Linked DNA regions of Homo sapiens. The protein of the gene in region 2 purifies or fractionates together with the protein of the main gene of each other region. This does not show direct contact. Each region holds a gene or a part of one and is shown on either strand. Other genes may lie near its edges.

Region 1 (4,156 bases), on a different chromosome or scaffold from region 2:
AAAATAGCCATTTCATCTCAACTAGTATTTGTTGAGCTTGTTGTCTGCCTAATACTGGGCTGATGCTGAGGAAAACCTGGGTGGAAAAGGCATAGTTTGTGTTTGAGGATGTGGAGGTTCTAAAAGATGCAAAGTGCTAACTTGTAAAAACTAAGAAGAATGAAAAGTCATGTCATAAAATGACTGTAACTACATGATATTAAGTCTGTTCTCAACCTCGCTCTGCAACCTTACAGCAAGGCAAAGGGAATAGAAAGAGAAAAAGCTGCTAGCATTTTGGATATTAAAACATTTCCAGTCACAGAGTATGAAAAGTAAAAGGGGTGGAATAACAAAAACGTAGGCCCTTTGTGCTTTAGGCAGGGATTTTTTTTTTTTTTTTTAAGATTACTTTCACTGGTGTTTTATGTTTCTTACAGGTATTTTAAACACAGAAAAACCATGAGCTCTTTCTGTTTGTAATTCAAAAAGATAAATGTTATTGTGTTCAAGTTATGAAAGTGTTTCCAGATCTCTCCTTTCAGATCATACCCACTGGTATTTATTGTCTGATCATAAGATTCTCTATTGAATATTTAGTATATTCAGTGTAGTATCTAACTATATGTATATTATCTTATGTTGTCGCCAAGTGTTTCACCTGCCTTGTCTCTCCAGCAATAAGAAGGGATACATGTGAGTGTGTCTATATATATATACAGGCATGCATATATGTAGGTGATGTCTCTATGGGGATATAATACATATGTGTGTATATATATGTCTAATATGTACAGACATTCATACACACACACTATCTCCTATGCTAGGAAAATAGTAGATGTTCACGATTTTTAATATGATTTGAACACAAAATGATTAGCCTGAGCTTAGGAGCTTGACATAAAGTGCCAAATGTATAAAATACTACCCGGTTTATTAGTGACAAATCAATTTGTCAATGATTTATTAGTGGCTTAAATATAAACTAAAAAATAATTAATTTAAAATTATTATTGTTCATCTAAACAAAAGCTAGAACATATCCCCTCAACTAGATTATAAACCCCTTGAGGCTAGTAACTTTAGTTTCTGTTTTTCCTCCATCTGCCTCACTGTCCCTCATGGTGCTAAGCCTATAAAACAGCATGTGTTAGCTACTCAGTATCTCTGTACCTGCCCTTTTCTGTATGCTCAGATGACACTTACCTGGTTGCTTGATCACCTAAAGAGCCAATAAAAATGGCAAAAGCATTTACTTGAGGGTCTCTTGTGAGGATTTGAGCAAACTTAGCAGGATGTATTCCATATCGTGACAGATTTGCATCACTCAAGACTATGACAAAGTACTCATCAGCTTCTTCTTTGACAATTTCCTTGATGGCATGTTCTGTCCCTTCTAACGTGTGGTCCCCACTCATGCAGAACTGAGAGTGGGCATGCATTGTCTGGAGGTAAAAGAAGTTGCACAAAAGCCATGGCTGAGAAACTTCTTTTTTAACAAATACGATTATTTTTCTATTGACCATGAGCATGCATACATACCAATTATTACCCATGAGTAGTACATTCTAAGTTAGTTCTATTTAATTTGCATATTTGAGTGACAACAGTATACAGTGATATTTGTTATCTGGCATAGAATTTCATTAGATATAGGATATCATTCCAAAATTATCACAGTGGGCACTTAGTTTTAAGTGGAAGCTTGCACTTCCACTTAAAGTGAGAAAATATAAGAAAATATAAAACTTGGTATCACATTGGAGGATGCAGATGACACAGGAGGAAAATAAGGAATGAGTTGAGTTTCCAATAAACAAAGGTATAATACTAAAAACATTGTACTCACGTCAATAACGATGGAGGAAAGTGACTTAAAATTGTGATGTGCATTTTTCTGTTGCAGGCTTAAGTGTGTGAAATGAATTACACATAAAATTGGGGACAGGGAGCACTCTAAAAGCGGTCATTCTGCTTACCAATGATATGATTGTATATCTAGAAAACCCTGTCCCTCTCCCGTCTCCCTCTCCCGTCTCCCTCTCCCTCCTCCCTCTCCCTCTCCCGTCTCCCTCTCCCTCTCCCGTCTCCCTCTCCCTCTCCCCGGTCTCCCTCTGATGCCACCAAAGTTGTCAAAGCCGAGGCTGGACTGTACTGCCGCCATCTCGGCTCACTGCAACCTCCCTGCCTGATTCTCCTGCCTCAGCCTGCAGAGTGCCTGGGATTGCAGGTGCCCGCCGCCACACCTGACTGGTTTTTGCATTTTTTGGTGGAGACGGGGTTTCGCCGTGTTGGCCGGGCTGGTCTCCAGCTCCTGACTGCGAGTGATCTACCTGCCTCCGCCTCCCGAGGTGCCGGGATTGCAGACGGAGTCTCGCTCACTCAGTGCTCAACATTGCCCAGGCTGGAGTGCAGTGGCGTGATCTCGGCTCGCTGCAACCTCCACCTCCCAGCCGCCTGCCTTGGCCTCCCAAAGTGCCGAGATTGCAGCCTCTACCCGGCCGCCACCCCGTCTGGGAAGTGAGGAGCGTCTCTGCCTGGCCGCCCATCGTCTGGGATGTGAGGAGCCCCTCCGACTGGCCGCCCAGTCTGGGAAGTGAGGGGCGCCTCTTCCCGGCCGCCATCCTGTCTAGGAAGTGAGGAGTGTCTCTGCCCGGCCGCCCATCGTCTGAGATGTGAGGAGCCCCTCTGACCGGCCGCCCAGTCTGGGATGTGAGGAATGCCTCTGCCCGGTGGCGACCCCGTCTGGGAATTGAGGAGTGTCTCTGCCCGACCACCACCCCATCTGGGAGGTGAGGAGTGTCTCTGATCGGCTGCCCCGTCTGAGCAGTGAGGAGCCCCTCCGCCCGGCAGCTGCCCGTCTGCGAAGTGAGGAGCCCCTCCGCCTGGCAGCCGCCCCGTCCGGGAGGGAGGTGGGGGGTCAGCCCCCGCCCCGCCAGCCGCCCCGTCTGGGAGGGAGGTGGGGGGCGCCTCTGCCCGGCTGCCCCGTCTGGGAAGTGAGGAGCCCCTCTGCCAGGCTGCCACCCCGTCTGGGAGGTGTACCCAACAGCTCATTGAGAATGGGCCATGATGACGATGGCGGCTTTGTCGAATAGAAAAGGGGGAAATGTGGGGAAAAGAGATCAGATTGTTACTGTGTTGGTGTAGAAAGAAGTAGACATGGGAGACTCCATTTTGTTCTGTATTAAGAAAAATTCTTCTGCCTTGGGATGCTGTTAATCTATAACCTTACCCCCAACCCCATGATCTCTGAAACATGTGCTGTGTCCACCCAGGGTTAAATGGATTAAGGGCGGTGCAAGATGTGCTTTGTTAAACAGATGCTTGAAGGCAGCATGCTCCTTAAGAGTCATCACCACTCCCTAATCTCAAGTACCCAGGGACACAAACACTGAGGAAGGCCGCAGGGTCCTCTGTCTAGGAAAACCAGAGACCCTTGTTCACATGTTTATCTGCTGACCTTCCCTCCACTATTGTCCTATGACCCTGCCAAATCCCCCTCTCCGAGAAACACCCAAGAATGATCAATAAATACTAAAAAAAAAAAAAAAAAAAAAAAAGAAACAGGCCGGGCGCGGTGGCTCACGTCTGTGGTCCCAGCACTTTGGGAGGCCGAGGCTGGCAGATCACAAGGTCGGGAGTTCGAGACCGGCCTGGCCGGCATGGTGGAACCCTGTCTCTACTAAAAATACAAAAAATTAGCTGGGTATGGTGACATGCGCCTGTGATCTCAGCTGCTCGGAGGGCTGGGACAGGAGAGTCGCTTGGGTGTGGGAGGCGCAGGTTGTAGTGAGCTGAGAATGTACCACTGCACTCCAGCCTGGGCGACAGAGCAAGACACCGTTTCAAAAAAAAAAAAAAAAAAAGAAACAAGCCAGGCACGGTGGCTGACGCCTGTAGACCCAGCACTTTGAGGTGGGCAGATCACCTGAGATTGGGAGCTCAAGACCAGCCTGGCCAACATAATGAAGCCCCATCTCTACTAAAGATACAAAACAAAACAAAAATTGGCCGGGCATGGTGGTGCGTGCCTGTGGTACCAGCTACTTGGGAGGCTGAGGCAGGAGACTGGCTTGAACCCGGGAGGAGGAGGTCGTAGCGGGCCGAGATTGTGCCACTGCACTCTAGCCTGAGCAACGGAGCAAGACTCCATCTCAAAACAAACAAAGAATAA
Region 2 (4,269 bases):
CCTTCTAGTAGGCCACAGTGTTCCTTGTTCCTATATTTATGTACATGTGTGCTCAATGCTTAGCTCCCATTTATAAGTGAGAACACAGATATCTAGATCTTTGTATCTACATCTTTGTGGCCTGTTTTCCCATCAGGTACTCTGCCTGTAAACGTCAGCTATCTTGACCTTCCTGGCTCCATCTACTTAACTCAGAGAATCTTCTGGGACTTTCTCTCTCTCTCTCTCTCTCTCTCTCTCTCTCTCTGTGTGTGTGTGTGTGTGTGTGTGTGTGTGTTTTCCCTTGCACCAAGCCATGGAAACTCACTCCAGGCAGTATGCTAGGACAATCATAGAGACCACCTACCTTGCTTCCTGTCTCTTAGTGATTACTATTTTACACAGCCTGATATTTAGATCTTGAAAAATTGTTCCTTCTCATTTTTCTTCTCATGTTTGCACATTATTTTTGTTTTGAGCAAGAGAGTAAATGCAGTTTCTATTATTCATCTTGAACTTTAGCTTTAGCGAAGTTTACTAAACTTTTAGAAAAACAATTGTTTTCAGACAAAAAAAAAAATGTAAGAAGCAGCTAGTCCCTAAATTTTAGTAGATATGACCCAAGGAATTAGGCTATTTTACCAAAGGGAAACCATGATTCTGAACTACATAGAAGATACTCTGAACCCTGGCAAGAGGCTAAAAACAAATGGAAGTTTAAATCCACCAATGAATTATTTATGCAGCACATTGCCACCACTTGGAAAGCTCTAGTAGTTGTTACCTAGAAGGAGATAAGAACTCTTTTTCTTTTAAGATATTCACCAAGGGGTTACATTCAATGGTGTTTGCAGCTTCTCTAGAGAGGTATGATGAGCCAGGCTTGTTCTCCAATGCTTCCAATGCTTCACACATTAAATATGTTCATTCAGTAGATTTGACACAAGCACTTTCCATCTGCTGGGGTATTATGAACACTGTATATATATATATATATATATATACACACATACATATATATACACGTATACATATATATATATATATATATATATATACCTGTAGCTCATGGTTCACATGACAGTAGAAGGAAATGATAGAAAGTGAAGATAAAAAGAAATAGAACCTGATAAGAAGGGACCTTGAAAACACTGCTCAATACCTTGGACTTCATCCTGTAGCCAAAGCAATTTATTAGGGACCTTCACTGAGAGGAGTGATTCAACCAGTTCTCTGTTTCAGAAAGCTAAATCTAGTAGCAGTATAGAATATTTTAAACATGTTAAGAAGAGATCAGCAAAACACAACTTCTCAGAGAAGAAAGGTTATTTAGAAAAGATAGGCCCAATACTATGAAATAAAGTACATTTGATTGTTTATGAAAAGATCTTTTTTTTAATGTTTTCTAGGCAAATCAGTGAAATTCTCTAGAAGAGTACCATGGGTTCATTTCTGTAAGTCATATGTGATAATATAATTTAGAAATTATAGATAAAGAGGTTAAATCTCATAATCTGAAGCTACCTTGGAATGTATTATATTTTTTACTACATGAAAATGAGAAAGTGGAGCTTAGAGAAGCACTGGTAGTTTGTGCCTCAGAACCTTTCAAACTATTAACTCATGTCTTGCGTAAGGAACTCAGGCTACTTTTGAACAAATAGCGAGTTCCTCCTTAAATTGATCCAAATTGATTATGACTTGAAGATTTTAAATTAACAGTAGTTAATATAGGTAAAAACCTTTAACGTGGGAAAAGAGGGTTGGACTATACATAGAAAGAGGCATTGTTTAAGTTCTTACAGATTATTCTGTATGCTATCCCTTCAGCCACCATCCTACCCCATATTAAGAACTACTGTTTTAGAAAACAAACAATTTAGACCTGAAGTCTCCCTGTCCCTACATTGTACCACCCAAAGGCACAAACAAACAGCTCAACTGGACTCACTGTGTCTTAGTCATCTGATCAGGGGATAAGCAAGAAACTTGGCCATCTTAATTTCAGGTTCTTCTCCTTCATCCCTTCTCAAAGATGTTCCAATTTTAATGTTTACCAGACAGGTAAATGACAAGGCTTTGACTGTCAGCCAAATCAAAGTTATTTCTGAGGTGACATCACTAGCTAAAGTAGAATTGAAAAGCAAATGTGATGGTATTTATTATTGTTGGTGATACCTCTTTACAGCAGCCATTGCCAAAGAAACTAAAAGATATCCATTTTTAGTTAAACCTTGACTATTGCTATATTCTTTGGTTTTCATTTATTTTACTTTTATGTTAAATGAACAATTGGCTAGTGAATTAGTTCAAGATATTAGATACACATAATAGTTTCATATATTCTGTAGCATTTGTATTTAGTATTTTGCCAAATAGCATGAATTTGTAGATAACCATTCATTATGGTCTTTTTGAAATAACATTAAAATCATAAATCAAGAAAAATAATTTTGCTTTAAGTGTGAGTCATTTGGTCATTTTATTATACTGAACCAATGTTATTTTCTTCTTTCAGATACTGATGCAGAAATAAGTGAAATCTACAAAAGTTTTCTTTCTTTTCCAAAGACTATTTCATTCTGTTGTATTCAGAGTATTCATCTCACTACATTGATTTGTTTGTGGTAGTTTTTCCTTGGACTTAATTTATATTGAAAAAACATTGATAATTAAATAAATAAAATAGATAATTTAGACCAATGGTGATAAGGTCTGGATGAAAACTACGCTATGGAGGACTGAAATGGCAATCATTCAGCCTAGCCTGGAGTCTGATTATACAGCTACTATAGGATGATGTTAGTATTGGTTTTGAGTGCAATAGGTTTTTTCCTAAACAAACATATTTTGTAGTCAATGAACTTTTTGTCACAAAACAGTAAAACATCTGTGTTTAACCTATGGTAAACAACATGTTAATGAACTATGCTATCCATGACTTAATGGACAGTTCAAATGTGACATCTACAGTTTTTCATTTCTCTTTTATGCCAGCACACAATCAATTCATCACCAATTGTCATTTGATTTACTTCAAAAAATATACCCCCAAATCCTAATACTTCTAACCTTCTCCACTGCATCTAGCCAACTCTAGCTATTGTCATCCCTAACAGAAATGGAGGAATAGCCTCTTTTTTTTTTTTTTTTTTTGAGACGAAGTCTCACACTGTTGCACGGCTGTAGTGCAATGGTGCCAACTCAGCTCACTGCAACTTCCACCTCCCGGGTTCAAGTGATTCTCCTGCCTCAGCCTCCTGAGTAGCCGGGATTACAGGTGTGTGCCACCACGCCTGGCTAATTTTTTGTAATTTAGTACAGACAGGGGTTCCCTATGTTGGCCAGGATGGTCTTGATCTCCTGACCTCATGATCTGTCCGCCTCGGCCTCCCAAAGTGCTGGGAATACAGGCGTGAGCCACCGTGCCCTGCCAGAATAGCCTATTAACCAGTCTACCTGCTTCCACTTTTCCTCCACCCTGATCACATACACACATGCATTATCCACTGAGCAGTCACAATCAGATGTTAAACCAAACATTATTCAGATAAGATCTCTGAAAAGCCTCTGATACTTTCTCTTTTAAAATGGAATATATTCTAAACACCTCTCCAAGGACACAAGACTTACCTTGTCTAACTAATGACTTTTCTAACTTCATTCCCTATCATTCTCCATCTTGCCCCATGCTCCTCATGCAGCAGCTTTTTTTTTTTTTTCCTTTTTCAAATATGTTGGTTTTGATCTTATCCAAGAACCTTTGCCCTGATGTATGAATGACTAACTGCTTTTCTACTTCGGGGGTCTCATATAGAAATCCTGCTTCAGAATACTCTTCCCTGAGCACTCTATCTAAATAAATCCCTCTTCTGCAACCCAGTGCTTTTTGTTCTATTACTGACTTCTTTTCCTTGTAGAAGTTACTATTACTGCTTTTTACCTTTTTATTTATTTGTGTATTGTCTTTGTTGTTGCCCTCATCTTATCTCCACAAAAATATATGCTCCATAAAAACAGGCATTTCTGTGTCTTATTCAGCACTTTATCAGGGCCTATAACAATGCCTGGGACATATTCAGTGACCAGTGAATATTTTTGGAAGGAAAGAAAAGAAGAAAGAATGAAGTAACAAACAAAGAATGAAGGAAGAAAAAATTTTTACAAACATTCAACATATTTTTATTTTGAAATAATTTTGTATTTTTCCCTATATCCTACATTGGATCAGAATATTACTGTTATGTATAGCCATGAGGACATGGTCTCAAAAAATGAGAAACTTTCTTA
Region 3 (4,269 bases), on a different chromosome or scaffold from region 2:
GCTCACTGCAACCTCTGCCTCCTGGGTTCAAGAGATGCTCCTGCCTCAGCCTCCCAAGAAGCTGGGATTGTAGGCACTCACCACACACCCAGCTAATTCTTGTATTTTTTTTTTTTTTTGACAGAGAGTTTTGCTCTTGTTGCCCAGGCTGTAGTGCAATGCCACGATTTTGGTTCACTGCAACCTCCACCTCCCGGGTTCAAGCAATTCTCTTGCCTCAGCCTCTGGAGTAGTTGGGATTACAGGTCCACGCCCCCACGCCCAGCTAATATTTTGTATTTTTAGTAGAGATGAGGTTTCACCATGCAAGTCAGGCTGGTGTTGAACTCCTGACCTCAGGTGATCCAACCACCTTGGCCTTCCAGAGTGCTGGGATTACAGGCGTGAGCCACCACGCCTGGCCTAATTTTTGTATTTTTAGTAGAGACAGGGTTTCACCATGTTGGCCAGGTGGGTCTTGAACTCCTGACCTCAGGCAGTTCACCCGCCTCAGCCTCCCAAAGTGCCGGAATTACAGGTATGAGCCACCACGCCCAGCCCTCATAAACTTTTTTTTTTTTTTTTGAGATGGAGTCTTGCTCTGTCGCCCAGTCTGGAGTGCGGTGGCACGATCTCGGCTCACTGCAAGCTCTGCCTCCCGGGTTCACGCCATTCTTCCGCCTCAGCCTCCCAAGTAGCTGGGACTACAGACACCCGCCATCACGCCCGGCTACTTTTTTTGTATTTTTAGTAAGACGGGGTTTCACTGTGTTAGCCAGGATGGTCTCCATCTGCTGACCTCATGATCTGCCCGCCTCAGCTTCCCAAAGTGCTGGGATTACAGGTGTGAGCCACCACGCCCGCCCCTTTTAAAGCATCTGTGATTTCACCATTTATCTACCCAAGCTTCACCATAAATTTGATGTTCTTGCTTCAGTTTAAGCAGAATTCATGTTGCTGTGATAGGGGCACTTAATGCCTTATCCTTCTTAGTGCCTCAAACCAGATCCTTTTCAGGCGTGTTACAGCAAGTCAGTACAAGTTTATTTTGGTGCAAAATGTTTTCGTAAGTACACATTTCCTGTGAACTTTTTGAAGACCCCTCATATATCCGATTGTTGTGCTGTGCCCTTGAAATCTCTTTTACTCTAGAGCAGTCCCTTTTTTTTCATCACAAACCGATTTATTGAAGAAAAGACTAGGTGTATTGTTTTGTACAATGTCCCACCTTCTGATTTGTCTGATTACGTCCTCTTGTCACTTGGCTTGTTGTTCTAGCCCCTGTGTTTTCTGTAACTGGAGTTAGCTCTAAAGGCTTGATTAGATAAAAGGTTAATGTTTTGGGGCAGAATACAGAAAAGGTGTTGTTGCTTTCGTAATGTATCACATCAGAAGAAAAAAGTACTAGGAAACAGGAACCTAACAACAAAAAGAATTGCATAGGCCGGGCACGGTGGCCCATGCTAGTAATCCTAGCGCTTTGGGAGGCCAAGACGGGTGGATTGCCTGAGCTCAGGAGTTCGAGACCAGCCTGGGTAACATGATGAAACTCTGTCTCTACTAAAATACAAAAAATTAACCCGTTGTGACGGTGTGCATCTGAAATCCCAGCTACTCAGGAGGCTGAGACAGGAGAATCGCTTGAACCCAGGAGGTAGAGGTTGCAGTGACCCGAGATCACACCATTGTACTCCAGTCTGGGTGATAGAGCAAGACTCTGTCTTAAAAAACAAACAAAAAACAAAAATTAGCCAGGCGTGGTGGTGTGCTCCTGTAATCCCAGCTACTTGAGAGGCTGACACACAAGAATCACTTGAACCTGGGAGGCAGAAGTTGGAGTGAGCCGATATCGCACCACTGCACTTCAGCCTGGGTGACAGAGCGAGACTCTGTCTCAAAAAAAAAGAATTGTATGATACGCTGATGAGGAGAGTATTGCTATCACCGAAGAAGTGGTAGCTTACATTTTAAAAAGCTTAGCCTGTCCACCCCCTACAGATACATTCTTTTCAAACCTAGGTCAGTTGAATTGGACTACATGTGTTTGTCACAGATAGGTTAGAGGCTGAGTAATCTTTGCCTTAGTCTCTTTTCCCTAAATTTATACCCTTTTCCCTAATTCCTAAACTTCCTTTGGACTGAACATACCTGGTGCTTGCTAGATTTGCTGAGTTCAGCATACCCCCCAGTCACACCACATCACGCCAGCCATAGGAGACAATTTCCGAAAGACCTGTAACAGTAGAGACCTGATCCACCAAAGGATTTGCTGTTATTTGCAATCTGTTTATGGTAACCAACACTTACCCCTTAGCACAGTAGTAATCCTGTGTCCTTAGAGAGTATTTTATCCCTGACTCAGGAGCTTCTCATTCTTTTTTTTTTTTTTTTTTTTTGAGATGGAGTCTTGTTCTGTTGCCCAAGCTGGAGTGCAGTGGCGCGATCTCTGCTCACTGCAAGCTCCGCCCCCCGGGTTCACGCCGTTCTCCTGCCTCAGCCTCCTGAGTAGCTAGGACTACAGGTGCCCGCCGCCAAGCCTGGCTAATTTTTTTATTTTTTAGTAGAGACGGGGTTTCATTCACCATGTTAGCTAGGATGATCTTGATCTCCTGACCTTGTGATCCACCTGCCTCAGCCTCCCAAGGTGCTGGGATTACAGGCGTGAGCCACCATGCCCAGCTGCTTCTCATTCTTAGAAATGAAGTTGGGCAGGGAAGCCTTAAGCATTTCTAGAGTGTGCCCCTTGTAGAACCTGATGAAAGCTATGGATCCTTTTCCCAGTAAAAAATACAAACACATTGACTCACATGACATTTTATGTTATTTCAGATCCTTTAAAAAGTTCTAAGGAACACACATGTACCTATTTCAGGATTTTATTACATGGCTAACATTCTCCTACCTTTTACTGTTTTTTCTGTTAATCCCAATGAGTGTTGCTGTTCTCTGGAGACAAAGAGGGGAGAATATCAAAAGCCAAAAAGTTCAGTTTTCTTAAGGATGATTTTATTTGTCATAATACCAGAAATTTTCAGGGGAATACTTCTCTGGTTTTGCAGTTAAAGTCAAAAGAAAAATAATTTTTTATATTTTCTTACAGTTAACTTTTCAGAAATGAATCTGTTCCATAGAATAAAGCCCACTGGCTTATTTTAAGGTACTTCTAAAAGGTCTTATTTTAACCAGATGTCATATATGTTCCGTATTTTAATTATTGAAAACATTTAAATGCAAAAGGTATTATAATTCAATTTTTGTTTATCATAATAATTTCAACTTGTATAACTTCACTGTCATATGATTTCATTTTCTTCTTGTTTTTATAGTGTATTCATTGCCTTCAAGAAAGCTGGTGGCTCTACAGTTAAGATCCATTTTTATTAAGGTTAGTATGTTGTAGTTTGCCTTTTTGTTTATTAAAGTGTAATGAGAAAATAAGTAACATTAGGGATTAAGATTCAAAAATTACTACTGTTTTTACCATATGTACAGTTAAGATCTGATTCTACAGAGAAATAATCTTACAATATTTCAGATGTGTTACTGTCTTTTCATGATTATATAGAAAGGAAGCAGGGCTTTTATCTTGAGTGTTAACATATTTTCAGTTCGGGTAGCATTGGTGAAAAAATGTAAGCATATTAATATTAGAGGTTTATTCCATTTGTATTACCTTTCAGCTGGTGGCATCTACATATAAACTATGTATATATCAAATTATGTATATGTCATAAAATATTCTGAATCCGACTTCTTTCCTCCTCCACTGCTGTCATTGAGTGCAAACCAGTGTCATCTTCATGCCCCTGACTAACTTGCTGATCTGCCTCCCACAAACAGCAGCACTGATGATCCTCTAAACGTACACCACATCACTACTCTCTTTGAAACCCTCCAGTGGCTTCTCCTCTCACTCAAAATTGTGATCCAGGAAAAGGGGCTCGCTTCCTGATGCACTGTGACACCAGGTTTTTGAGACAAGAAAGGCTTTATATTGCAAATTGACTCCCAAGGAGACAGGAGTCGACCTCAAATCTGCCTCCCTGTGCTGACTTCAAGGCAGTGTTTTTATTAGAAAAGGTTCAGAGGGTGGATTCTGAGATCAGTAGGTGAGCGATGGAAGGAAAGGGGACATCTGGAAGGTCCTTGGGCATGCACAGTTATCTCCTCATGCTAACTCATAGGGCTCATGTGCCAATTCAGGGGAATGAGTATGAAACGTGATGGAGAGTCAGCTTGCGACACCAGGAAGCTTGTTCTCTGCAGACTCTACTTGGCCATATTGGTTCC
Region 4 (4,269 bases), on a different chromosome or scaffold from region 2:
CTGCTAGAGCTAAGCAACCAATCATTAAGGAGGAAGGCATTGGCCATGGTTGACAAGCAACATACTGAACATGGCCAACTTTGACTCCACTTTCCTCTTCTACTTCTCTCCTAACAGCATCTTCTATTGTCTCTCCTAATGAAATGGAGCAAAAGAACAAGTTGCTGATGAACATGCCCGGGACACTTTGTGTCCTGAATGGTTCAAACATCTGGAAATCACTTTGGACAGAAACCCAATGCAAATAATCAGAAAGCAGAAGCCTAAAACTAGACTGTAATTGAAGAAAACAATTTTTTTAAAGTACATGACCACATATAGAATATCAAAATGCCAACAATAAACTTTTCGTTTTTTTAAGGTACAAATTTGTCAGTTACATTTTAAAAATAATGATACCATCTAAAAATATCCAATACCTAATACTGGTTAAACACTATGCAAACACTTTATATCTTATCTCATGTATATATTGTCCACGAAATAGTTATAAATTACATGATTTTTACAAATAGCTCTTTCACACTAAAATTCTGAAACTTTTTTTTATTATGTTGTCAAACAATTATTGCAGGTAACTCTTTTCAGGTCATTACAAGATTACAAACTACATAAGATGAAATTTAATACTTTTTCTAAGCAATTATTTTCCTCTAGATGACTGCTGACTCTGCTATGGTAAGTGATGCCTATAAATGTACTTTATATTTCTAATTTGTTGGAATTAAGAATTAGAATAGGGGAAATTGTTTCTAAGTAAAATCATTTCTAAGTAAAATCTGGAAGTTTAGAAACATTTTGCTAAATATTGCTGTATTTAGCAAAATATATTTTAAATATAGCTTTCTATTTCAAATAGATTGATAAATTTCCTACATGAAAATTAACTTATAATAATCAAAAGAACACATATAGTAAAAATATAATTATAGACTAGTGTAAGGTATTTGCAAAACCATAACTAACAAAAGATTAGCATATGCTACATATTTAAGAATTCTTAAAATGAATAAAAAAGGATAAACAATGAAAACAAAACTAGGTAAAAGATAAACATCTAAAATTCAGAGAAAAGAAAACTGAATGCCTAATACACATTTGAAAAAAGATGTTCCATAGGCAAGAAAATGAAAATGAAAACGAGATACGATTTCATTCACTCCTCAGAATGACAAATTTAAAAGTCTGAAAATCCTAACTTGGTGAAGATGTGGAATAATGGAACATTTCATGTTCTGCTGGAGGAAGTGTAAATTGGCAGAAACACTTCAGAGACAACTTGGCAACATACAGAAAAGGTTAAGATGCTCATAACACATGAGCTGGTCGTACTACTCTATGTATATAACCTAGATAACTCTTGCAAATGTGCACAAGGAGAAGTATAAAAATATTAATTGCAGTGCTGTTTGTAATAAGAACTTTAAAATAAACTAAATGTCCAATCAGCAGAATGGATAAATAGTGGAATATCCATGAATGGATTACTACCCAGCAGTTAAGACAATGACCTAGAACTACTAAAGACAGCATAGTGATTTGGAGCAAGAACTCAGAAACCAACATGCCCAGGCTTAAATCCCTTCCTTATCACTTATTAGCTGTTTGATCTTGAGCAAATTATTTAGTCCCTATGCCTTAGTGCCCCTACCTGCAAAATCACTGTAATAGTGTATTTTATAAGGTTGTATAAGGATCATACAAAAAATATATATAAAGCATAGCCTGATACTGTTTTATATATATGATATGATCCTCCTCCAAAACACAGCCTGATACTATATGTTTACTGTTATTATCTAGCAATGCAAATATTGGAAATTGAAATTGAGATAAAACATATTAATTAGATGTATTCATTCACTCCACAAACATTTACTGACTTTCTACTACATGTGCTACAGGCATGTGCTATGAGGGTTTCAGATACAGCAGTGGATAAAATAAAGTCCCTGTGCTTATGAAACTTATATTCTTGAAACATAAGATAATAAATTAGTAAGTACATATATACATACTTACATACGGTATTAGGTGATGATGAGTGCCATAGGGAAAAATCAGGAAGGATGATAGGGATTGTGAATGCAGGGTATGGGGGCTAACTAATGTATCTGGGGCAATCAAGCAAGGCCTCTTTGAAAAGGTAACAGTTGAGTCTAGTACAGAAGGAAATGAGGTGGAACCTAGATACCTGGGTCAAGAGCAACATATCAAAGAGCAAATACTGAATTTTTAACAAAGCAGACCAAATTACTAGGAAAAGTAATTTATATAATTCTCATATAAAACATGAGAATTACATGTTTATATTATTAAAATTGTATCATTTTTAAAATACCTTAAAATAACCGAGTTTTATAACATGATAATTTATCAGAGATTATTTCTCAAATGTTACCTAAACTTTGTATTTTAAAATTATAAATTAAATATAAATTATTAAGAAATGGCTTACCAGGCTCAATAAATCCAGCAAGGCAAGTAAACATGCCTGGGGGAAATCTTTTCTGCCTGCCTAAAAGGCATTTGGTCCCATCTGGATGAATAACTTGCATGATTACTACTGGATCTGTTGAAAAAAAAAATCAGATACATGAATGGCAGGAAAAACGAATTTAGATTCATTGTACAAACACTGTCTGATAGGATAATATAAAGGTATATCTCCTATAGGGATAGAACTCTTGTCTGGTTGTAAGAGATTGCTTCTTTCTGCCCTAATGTAGCTGATAATAGAATATCTCAGGGAAATTGTATAGAATAGTGTCAGTAAGCTAAAGGAAGACCATTTTTGTCCTTCTTCCCCCAATCTTAACAGCAACATTTATTCTGTACTTATGGATGTTAGGTGTATTATTACTTTTTAATGAGAAAAAAATTTGAGTAGGTAATACATGGAAATAAGGAAAATTCAAATTTTACCACGGTAAATAGTTAATTTCCCTCTTCCATCCTAACCCTTAACAAAATGTTTTTAAAAGCTAATGTGATTCTATGATTAAAGTCATTAAATAAAATTTAAATAACAGTTCATCTCTCTAGAAGTTACTAATTCAGCAAATTCTTCTCACTATATCATGACCAAGAACTAGGAATTAAATGTAAAAGGCTCTTGAGCAACAAAAATAGATGTCACTAAGCCATGTATTTTTCTCCCCAGAGGCCTCCTCAGGTGTTGCTGAGCCTATCTATTCTTCTTTCACACAGTTTTAAAGGTCTGGGTTACCAGATTTCCAAATCTACAGCAGACTCAAGGCAGCAATTAGAAGAGAGAATACAGGCAGACATTAACAGTAATGAAAAGCTAGGGCCAGGCTGTACTGCTTTAGTAATGCCTCAAACAGGCAATAAATTGTACTTAGTGGGGCTTTTTCTCCACTAAGTAGAGCCAAATTGGTTGGCTTTTGAAATCATGTATCATAACATATCAAATTATAGTGAGTAACCCAAAGTTAAGAAATGGCTATTGATGTACCATGTTTTTTACTTAAAAATCATGAAAGTGTGTAACACTTTAACACATTCTTAATGGTTAGACATGTTTTCCATAAAAAGGAAAACTCTTTAGCTCCTCACAAATTTTCTCTTTCCAAAATATCTTATTCCCCAAGATCCAGGTGGCTGAGATATAAAATAAAGGGCTTACCAACTCTTGGGTATGAGGTATTATGGACGCCATTGAGACTAGGACAGTCTTCTTTTAAACATAATCTCTTATAGCCACCTTCTTCAATTTTAGTTGCATTTCCACAGGTTGGGCAAAACTTGTATCGACTGTGCCAGGCAAGAACAGATCTTGCTTGAGCTACAACCCCTTCAAAAAAAAGAAAAGCACAAAAATTTTAATTCTGTAAGAAATTAAAATCAATATATAAGTAAAATGTTCTCAAGCTACAATAAGAATAGCTGTGTGATCAGGGGTTTTAGTATTTCTATTTTTATAATGCGTATTCTTCTTTTAAAGTAAAAGATTTAATTTTCTGGATTACAAAAATTAGATTTTTTTGTTTGAATAAAATATAACTTTCATATAAGATAGACATACTGACATCTATCTTACATCCTATATTAGATCAGGCTTTTACTGTAGGTGATTTTAAAATTTGGGGTATTCATGATTCTAGTGTAGAGTAAGTTTACAAACAGTGATTTTACAATAGTGATTTTAATAAAAATATACCACAAAGTCAGTTCTTAAGTGAGATTTGTACTCTAAAGGAAATATTACTAGGAAACTGTAGGAGGCTATCACCACTCTCTTGGTGA

The links.
Region 1: the proteins of PRR27 (region 2) and VWA8 purify together in Homo sapiens (affinity purification with mass spectrometry; one large-scale study listed by BioGRID and IntAct). This does not show direct contact.
Region 3: the proteins of PRR27 (region 2) and PSMG2 purify together in Homo sapiens (affinity purification with mass spectrometry; one large-scale study listed by BioGRID and IntAct). This does not show direct contact.
Region 4: the proteins of PRR27 (region 2) and NUDT12 purify together in Homo sapiens (affinity purification with mass spectrometry; one large-scale study listed by BioGRID and IntAct). This does not show direct contact.

What each region holds. Positions count from the first base shown.
Region 1 is NC_000013.11:41,569,280-41,573,435, forward strand, and holds part of VWA8 (von Willebrand factor A domain-containing protein 8 isoform a precursor), read right to left. Parts: intron 1,428-4,156; coding exon 1,189-1,427; intron 1-1,188. UniProt on the Homo sapiens protein: Exhibits ATPase activity in vitro.
Region 2 is NC_000004.12:70,160,198-70,164,466, forward strand, and holds part of PRR27 (proline-rich protein 27 precursor), read left to right. Parts: intron 1-1,388; coding exon 1,389-1,400; 3' UTR 1,401-1,433; intron 1,434-2,497; 3' UTR 2,498-4,269.
Region 3 is NC_000018.10:12,709,397-12,713,665, forward strand, and holds part of PSMG2 (proteasome assembly chaperone 2), read left to right. Parts: intron 1-3,305; coding exon 3,306-3,364; intron 3,365-4,269. UniProt on the Homo sapiens protein: Chaperone protein which promotes assembly of the 20S proteasome as part of a heterodimer with PSMG1.
Region 4 is NC_000005.10:103,552,282-103,556,550, forward strand, and holds part of NUDT12 (NAD-capped RNA hydrolase NUDT12), read right to left. Parts: intron 3,818-4,269; coding exon 3,650-3,817; intron 2,573-3,649; coding exon 2,459-2,572; intron 136-2,458; coding exon 1-135. UniProt on the Homo sapiens protein: mRNA decapping enzyme that specifically removes the nicotinamide adenine dinucleotide (NAD) cap from a subset of mRNAs by hydrolyzing the diphosphate linkage to produce nicotinamide mononucleotide (NMN) and 5' monophosphate mRNA.